Linked DNA regions of Homo sapiens: all the other regions are linked to region 2. The links come from fine-mapping of genetic effects on gene expression. A gene starts in region 2. Each other region holds a variant in brackets. All regions are shown on one strand. Distances are from middle to middle.

Region 1 (2,754 bases), 73 kb before region 2:
AATTGCCAAACCAGTAGCTTTCAGTTTTTAAGACCTTAAGGAGCTCCAGGGACAGAAGACAGAACTCAAGGTCTGCCCAAGATGGAGATTCTAATTGCATATTCTCTCACACAGGTGAGACCCTAAAGCTATACCCTTACTATTAGGCTAAACTAGAAATACATCTGACCACAAGGGGCTATAGCCAAAATGGCCTTGGTTCTTGGTACTACATAAAAGTGAAAAAGGGCCAGGTGTGGTGGCTCACGCCTGTAACCCCAGCACTTTGGGAGGCTGAGGCGGGTGGATCACGAGGTTGGGAGATCGAGACCATCCTGGCTAACACAGTGAAACCCCATCTCTACTAAAAATACAAAAAATTAGCCAGGCGTGGTGGCAGGCGCCTGTAGTCCCAGCTACTCCGGAGGCTGAGGCAGGAGAATGGTGTGAACCCAGGAGGCGGAGCTTGCAGTGAGCCAAGATTGCGCCACTGCATTCCAGCCTGGGTGACAGAGCAAGACTCCATCTCAAAAAAAAAAAAAAAAGTGAAAAAGAACTCCTGAAAAAGATATAAAAGCTAGTCCTAACAATTTGCAGTTTAGTTTCACAGGGTCGAATCGTCTGAAAAGCCTCCAGCAGAGATTTTAATTTAAAGTGGTCCTAAGGGCCAGGTGTGGTGGCTCACGCCTATAATCTCAGCACTTTGGGAGGCCAAGGCAAGTGGATCACCTGGCAAGTGGATCACCTGAGGTCGGCAGTTTGCGACCAGCCTGGCCAACATGATGAAACCCCATCTCTACTAAAAATACAAAAATTAGCTGGGCTTGGTGGCAGGCACCTGTAATTCCAGCTACTCGGGAGGCTGAGGCAGGAGAATCACTTAAACCCAAAAAACGGAGGTTGCAGTGAACCAAGATGGCACCACTGTACTCCAGCCTGGGTAACAAGAGTGAAACTCCACCTCAAAAATAAATAAATAAATAAATAAAATAAAACAAAGTGGTCCTAAGTACCTAAAGTGCTAGAAGAAGCATATGCAATTCTCTCTAGAAGAACCCACCTTTATCTCAGGCCTCAAAAAATTCCCACATATAGTTTTGATAAAAATAACCACAGAATCAAAAATCACAAAACCGAAACAAACTAGGCACCATGAGCAAAAGAAGCAGAAATATAGACAGCAGAATCAGACCTACAAAGACTGTAGATATAGAAATTATCAGAAACATGACATAAAATTACTATTTTAGAGCTTTTAAGAAATAAAAATGAGGCCAGGCATGGTGGCTCACACCTGTAATCCCAACACTTTGGGAGGCCGAGGTGGACAGATCACGAAGTCAAGAGATGGAGACCATCCTGGCCAACATGGTGAAACCCTGTCTCTACTAAAAATACAAAAATTAGTTGGGCATGGTGGTGCATGCCTGTAGTTCCAGCTACTCGGGAGGCTGAGGCAGGAGAATCGCTTAATCCCGGGACTGCGGAGGTTGCAGTGAACCCAGATGGTGCCACCGCACTCCAGCCTGGGTGACAGAGCAAGACTCTGTCTCAAAAAAAAAAAAAGAAAAAGAAAAAGAAAGACAGACAAATGGAATTAATAATAAAAGAATATACAAATGACCAAGCAGTTTTTTT[T/A]AAAAAAAATACAATTCTGGAGATGAAAAATATAGTAATAAAAATTTTAAATTCATTGGACAGATTTAATAGCAGGTTAGACACAACTGAAAAGAGAAGGCAGTTCAGAGGAAGAAGGGGTGAAAAAAAGCAGAGAAAACAGAGTGAAAGAAATGATGCAGATGACAGCACAGTGAGAAAAATAAATGGAAAATGAGCCGGGCACTGTATCTGTAATCTCACTGCTGGGATTATGGGCTCACACCTGTAATCCCAGCACTTTGGGAGGCCAAGGCAGGAGGATTGCTTGAGGCCAGGAGTTTGAGACCAGCCTAGGCAACATAGTGAGACCTAGTGTCTGCAAAAACACAAAAATTAGCCAGGTGTCGTGGTGCATGCCTGTAGTCCCAGCTACTCAGGAGGCTGAGGCAGGAGGATTGCTTGAGGCCTGGAGGTGGAGGTTGCAGTGAGTTGTGATTGCACCACTGCACTACAGCCTAGGTAACAGAGCAAGGCCTTGTCAAAAAAAAAGAAAAAGAAAGGGGAGGGCAGGGGAAGGGAGGGGAGAAGGAAGGGAGAAAGAGAGAGAGGAAGGGAAAGAAAGAGAGAGAGGAAGGGAAAGAAAGAAAATAAATGGAAAATAAGATACCCAGATTCAAGAACCTCAGTAACTTCATAACAGAAATAAAAGGAAATCCACATTTCAACACATTATAATAAAATTGCAGAGCACTGAAGACAGAGACTAGATCTTAGAAACAGACAAAAGAGGCTGGGCGCAGTGGCTTATACCTGTAATCCCAACACTTTGGGAGGCCGAGGCGGGTAGATTGCTTGAGGTCAGGCGTTCAAGACCAGCCTAGACAACATGGCAAAACCCCATCTCTACTAAAAATACAAAAAATTAGCTGAGCGTGGTGGCAGGCGCCTGTAATCCCAGCTACTTGGGAGGCTGAAGCAGAATTGCTTGAACCCAGGAGGTGGAGGTTGCAGTGAGCTGAGATTCATGCCATTGCACTCCAGCCTGGGCAACAAGAGCGAAACTCCATCTCAAAAAAAAAAAAAAAAAGAAAAGAAAAGAAACAGACAAAAGAGTCAGAAAACTTCAGCCTGAAACAATTTGATTGACAGCTGATTTCTCAAGAGCAACAATAAAAG
Region 2 (2,754 bases):
GAGTTTCACAAGGGAGTCCTGTGTGTGAGAAGGAAGGAACATATTTGAGTGTAATGTGCAGTTGCATTTAGATCTAAGGAAACTTAAAATGAATTTAAGTTTCCTTAATTCAAAATGAATTTTTGAGCAGTTCTCCACGGTAACTTTAATAAGTCTCCATTTCAACTTTCTGTTCTCAATCCCATCTACAGCTCAAACATATGCAGTATCTGCCAGCCCTGTCCATGAATTCCTGAAGTCCCAGCCAAGTGCCTCTCAGCTCAAAAAGCCCCTTGCTTGCCAGGGGTCAGCCATGTCTGGAAGGCTCTGAAAGAGGTCTGCTGGGCAGTAGGACTGCTTCTGTGGATGAGAGGCCTCTTGTTGGACTGGAGAGACCAGGAGCTGTAAGAAACCCAGAAATAAAAAGTCTCAGATGGGGACAACTGCAAAGTACCAGGAGTTCCTCCCTCCTCTCCACCATATCCCACAGTTGGACATCTCCCCGAAAACCCCACCCCAAGTAAAATTTATTTGCCGTCTCACCCTCAAATAAGAATGAGTCAATCATTAAGTAATGCAATTATACAAGCATAGTTGTAAACAACTATATTGCAAGTATGCTGACATGCAAAGATGTGTTTTACCTTTAATTACCAGAAGAAAATAGACAACTTGAGTTTGAGCACCTAACTTGAAGAAGAAATTAGGAAATAATAGTCCCTCCCCACCACATCCATCATTCCCAACCCGTTCTGCCTAAAAATCGTTTACATTGTGGATTTTATTTGTAATTTTTAAAGTCTTATTTTAAATTAGGTCCCAAAGAAAGAAGCTGGCATTTCTTATTCTTTTCAGAGTGGTCTAAGAAAAAAAATAGGAAAGCAAACTCTTTCTTTTTTTCTTTTCTTTTTTTTTTGGAATCAATACCCGAGATAACAGCAGAAGCAAAAATCCACCGGTGCGTCAGCAAGCAGGGCACTCGGCCATTCATCTCCATCCTTCCTTCTGAGCTGTTCTCCAGCAGGCTCCGGCCGCAGCTCCAGGCCACTAGAGCAGATAGATAATGTAGGACAGAATGACCAGGCCTATGATGGCAAAGAACATCAGGATGAAAATATCCAGCATTGTGGATTCCTAGGCCGACCAAGCCCCTGGATTCTGGTGAACCGTGAGCTGTGAGCACGGAGGTTGCAGTCGGTGGAGAGAAATGGCTCCCCTTCACTCCACAGCTCAGCCCTGGTTCTTTCCCCTCCCCCTCCCAGGGGCCTGAGACTGAAGGATGCTGCAGCTCCACCAGCAGCTTCCTGCCCCCCCACCAACCACAGCCAACCAATCACAAAGCCTGGGGGTGGATAGCCAAGGAGATGCCAGATTTAGACCCACAGAACCGCAGAATCAAAGGGGCTCAATTTCTCCCCAGGAACCCAATCCCACCCCTTTGTATCTAAATGGAGCCTGCATGCTCTGGATGTAGGAGGAGATAGGATCCTACCCAGCTCCCCCAAGAGTGAATCCTCCTGACTGCCTTCTTCGCGTTTCCTCTCACACACCTCGGGCAGATTATCTCAGAAAAATCATGGTTGGGTATTGGGTGGGCCATTGGCAACTTCTAAAGGTCACATTATGGGGAGACACAGACAAAAGTTTCGTGTGGATCTCAGTGGGCTTCCCTGAGGGATGAAGCTAACATTTATACATTTCCTACACTGGGCCAGATATCGTACATGTGGTGCAATTTCAACCTCCCTATGAGTCTTTCATAGATGGGGCTCAGAGATGGTCAGAAACTTACCCTAATGGTTCATAGCTTAGATGTGTCAGAGACCAGCCGGGCGCAGTGGCTCATGCCTATAATCCCAGCACTTTGGGAGGCCGAGGCAGGTGGATCACAAGGTCAGGAGTTCAAGACCAGCCTGGCCAAGATGGTGAAACCCTGTCTCTACTAAAAATACAAAAGTTAGCCAGGCTTGGTGGTGCATGCCTGTAATCCCAGCTACTTGGGAGGCTGAGGCAGAGAATTGCTTGAACCCGGGAGGCAGAGCTGAGATCGCGCCACTGCACCCCAGCCTGGGCTACAGAGCAAGATTCTGTCTCAAAAAAAAAATAAAAATAAAAATTAGCCGGGCGTGGTGGCAGGTGCCTGTTATCCCAGCTATTCAAGAGGCTGAGGCTAAAGAATTGCTTGAACCCGGCAGGCAGAGGTCGCAGTGAGCTGAGACCGTGCCATTGCACTCCAGCCTGGGTGACAGAGCGAGACTCCGTCTCAAAAATAAATAAATTAATAAATAAAATAAAAAGTAAAAGGCTGGGTGTGGTGGCTCATGCCTGTAATCCCAACACTTTGGGAGGCTGAGGTAGGTGAATCACCTGAGGTCAGGAGTTCAAGACCAGCCTGACCAACATGGAGAAACTCCAGCTCTACTAAAAATACAAAATTAGCTGGGCATGGTGGCACATGCCTGTAATCCCAGCTACTCAGGAGGCTGAGGCAGGAGAATCGCTTGAACCTGGGAGGTGGAGGTTGCAGTGAGCTGAGATTGTGCCATTGCACTCCAGCCTGGGCAACAAGAGTGAAACTCCGTCTCAAAATAATTAATTAATTAATTAAAAATGTCAGAGACCAGGATTCAAAACTAGGCATGCTGACACCAAAGTCCATATTCTTCCTCTTGCGCCACACTGCTCCCCCTGTTGGTCCGGAAGGCCCCTACACCCCACGTGCACTGCTCAGCTTGCAGTGGACTGCTTTCACATCGATCCACCTACAGGACGAGC
Region 3 (2,754 bases), 55 kb after region 2:
CTCTCCTCCTGCCCAGTCAAGCCCAGGACCAGGAGGAACAGTGACACAGCAGCGGCCCCATATGCCCACACTCCCCAAGAGCAAGTTCAAATATCTTTCAGAACCTCCAACCCCACCTCCTCACGCTGACTCAGAGGCCAAAGGTCACTGAGGAAGCTCACACACCAAGGGGGAGGGGAGAGATAAGGTGTCCAATAAACTATCCTCTCCTGAACAAAACCTGGCTCCAGGTCAGTAATGAACTTGGCCCCAGGGCTCTATACCCCTCTTTCATCTAGTGTTCCCACCCTTGCACCTCTCTTCCATCCAGTCCTCCCAGCCCTCCCAGTTCAGATGGAAAGGACAGAATACTTGGACTTGGAGCCAGCTTTGGGTGGTGGATGAAAGACGCGGTGAGGAAGGGCACAAAATCACAGAGGCCTCCCCTCCAGACTGGGGAGGGGATGCAGAGGGGCAGGTTTTACCTTAGGATCTTACGGAGCTTACAAGAGAACAGGATCCTACCCTAAACTGTACGGGAAACACCCAGTTCTACTCTCCAACCCCCCTCCAAAAGTCTAATGGCAACCAGATGAACAAGTCCAGCATTGGGGAGACAGGGCCCCCAGGGGACACTGAATCTCCACAAGGCCACCCTCCCCTCCCCCCAATACCTCCCCCTTTCCTCGGCTTCCCCAGAACTCAGCCAACCCCACCCTCCATTGGAGAAACCTGCTTTGAAAAGTTAGCTCTTTGTTCTTCCACACGGTCTCCTGGCTCTGAGCACAATTTCAGGAGATCTCAGCTAAGCACCCTCCACCCACCCTACTCTGCCACCCAACCCCACCCGGCTCAGGCTGGACGGCCCAGCACCGGGAGTTGGCTTTTAATTGGAGGTGGGGGTTGGGAAGCTGTGGAGGAGGTCTGCGAGTCCTTTAACGACTGAATCCAAGGGGGTGCAGGTCGTTCAAAAACGGGGCTCTTGCGGCAGAGCCCGGGTCCTTACCCAAAACCCCCCGCATCAGATGCCACACACTCGCAGGCTGATAGCCCCCGCCCCGCCAGGCCAGGAAGCCAGGCCACCCCCGCCGGAGCGGACGGTTTTGCAGGGCCCCCCAGCCTCTGCCCCGCCCCCCCGCCCCCTCCACCAGCGCCCCGCGCTTCCGCCTACTTGGCGCTCGGCGCAGAGCGGAGAGGGAGCGGCCGTCTCTTCTCACTCTCCAGGCCGTAGGGGGCGGGACTGCACCCCTAACCTTCCCCCAACACACCCCGG[C/G]GCCTGACTTCCCTGCTCCTCTCCCGTCCTCCCAACCCCGGGACACAGAGCCCACCCCTCTCCAGCAGCGGCTGCCCGCTACGCGTGGACTTCCCGCCTCGCCCCAGATCTCCTGGTTTTCAGACTGGGATGTGTCCCCACACCCCATGACACCGCCCGCTCGCCCTCCCTCCATTCTCCTGGGATCGCGGGGATAAGGCGGCAAAGACCCGGCCCTTCTCTCCTCCCTGGATTCGGAGCACTGCGGGGGATTGCAAAGACGCGTCTCCCGGTCCCGGGCTCACCTTATCCAGACAGTTCACCTTCTCCGTGGGATACACGATCTTGCCGCACCGGGCGCAGTTGGGGTTCATGGTTCCGAGAAAAGCTGGGGCGGGGACGCCTGAGCTCACGCGCGTCCTGTTCCCCGAGGCGAGCTGGCGGGAGGCGGCCGCGGCTGCAACTACACAGGCAGCAGCGACGGCGGCTGGAGCTGGGGAACTGGCCTCCGCCTCCGCCCTCCTTCCCCTAATAAACACAGCGGGGAGGAGGGGCTGCACTGGGGCGGGCACGCGCCTCGGGCGCGGGCAAGGGCACGCGCAGCGAGGCGCGCTCTCCGGGCGACGTGGGGCTGCGCGGGGGCGGGTTCCTGGGGGGACGGCGGGGCCCGCGGTGCTGGCGCCTCAGCGCTCTCAGGCTGACTGCGCCCGGTGCCCAGGGCCCTTCCCCAGCCGGAGGCGGCGCAGAGGCGAGCAGGCTGCACATCTGGGGCGCCCGGGCTGCGGGAGGCGGGCTAACCCCTCAAGCCCGTCGAGGGTGGGGTTGGATCCTCCTGAACGCTGGAACTGATTCACCGCATTCGGGGACTTTCTACCCGGCATGAATCTGCGGACCGAACGGGGACCCCCTACCCTGCCCCTCTTAGCTCTCTTCCGGCCCACACCCTTTCCCACATTTGTGGGGCGGAACCCGTCCCTCCCTCTTGGACCCTGCGCGCTGCCGGGCCCGGGCTAGTGCTTCCCTCTCGAGCCCCTGCAGTGCACCTTCCCGGGGTTCCCCGGATGCGGGCACCGTCTGCGTTCAGCTTGACCCCTTTTTCTCCAGCATTCCTTTCTCCTTCTGTTACACCACTACTCACAGTGTAGCAGCTGCAACAATGCTTAGCACCCAAGGAGCCGCCTCCAGGCGCTGTAGAGGCGCGGGGGTATAGCTCAGTGGTAGAGCATTTGACTGCAGATCAAGAGGTCCCTGGTTCAAATCCGGGTGCCCCCTCAATGGCTTGGTTTTTCCTTCCCCTTGTTAACCATCTGTTTTTCATTCTTGACTCACATTTTAACATTGGGTCCTGACTAAAAAAAAAAAAAAAAAGAAAAGAAAAAGTATCTTCCTCATTTTTCAACCTTAGCAGAAATCTTTCGGTTTTACTTTGTGCTCAGCGGGAGGAGGGGGTGGGTATAAAAGCTGCGCGACCGCATTACTCGCGCCAGAGGTGTAGGGATTTCTGCGGCCACGGGCGCCAGCCT

What was found.
Region 1: its variant is fine-mapped to the expression of LASP1NB in blood mononuclear cells (TOPMed, PIP above 0.99).
Region 3: its variant is fine-mapped to the expression of LASP1NB in whole blood (TOPMed, PIP above 0.99).

Annotation. Positions count from the first base shown.
Region 1 is chr17:38,997,099-38,999,852 of GRCh38, reverse strand. No RefSeq gene overlaps it. Among named protein-coding and RNA genes, the nearest start is that of LINC02079, 29 kb to the left of the region's middle. The variant T/A (reference allele first, on the strand shown) is at 1,618.
Region 2 is chr17:38,924,044-38,926,797 of GRCh38, reverse strand. LASP1NB (LASP1 neighbor) reads right to left here and starts at 1,184. Exons shown (of 2, transcript NM_001414697.1): 1 at 907-1,184; 2 at 1-381. The coding sequence starts at 1,104. The coding sequence ends at 1,027.
Region 3 is chr17:38,869,041-38,871,794 of GRCh38, reverse strand. It overlaps LASP1 (LIM and SH3 protein 1), which reads right to left and starts at 1,737. Exons shown (of 7, transcript NM_006148.4): 1 at 1,537-1,737. The coding sequence starts at 1,605. It overlaps TRC-GCA4-1 (tRNA-Cys (anticodon GCA) 4-1), which reads left to right and starts at 2,432; the gene lies at 2,432-2,503. RefSeq lists enhancers at 1-475, 1,488-1,637 and silencers at 1,078-1,177, 1,698-2,007. The variant C/G (reference allele first, on the strand shown) is at 1,253.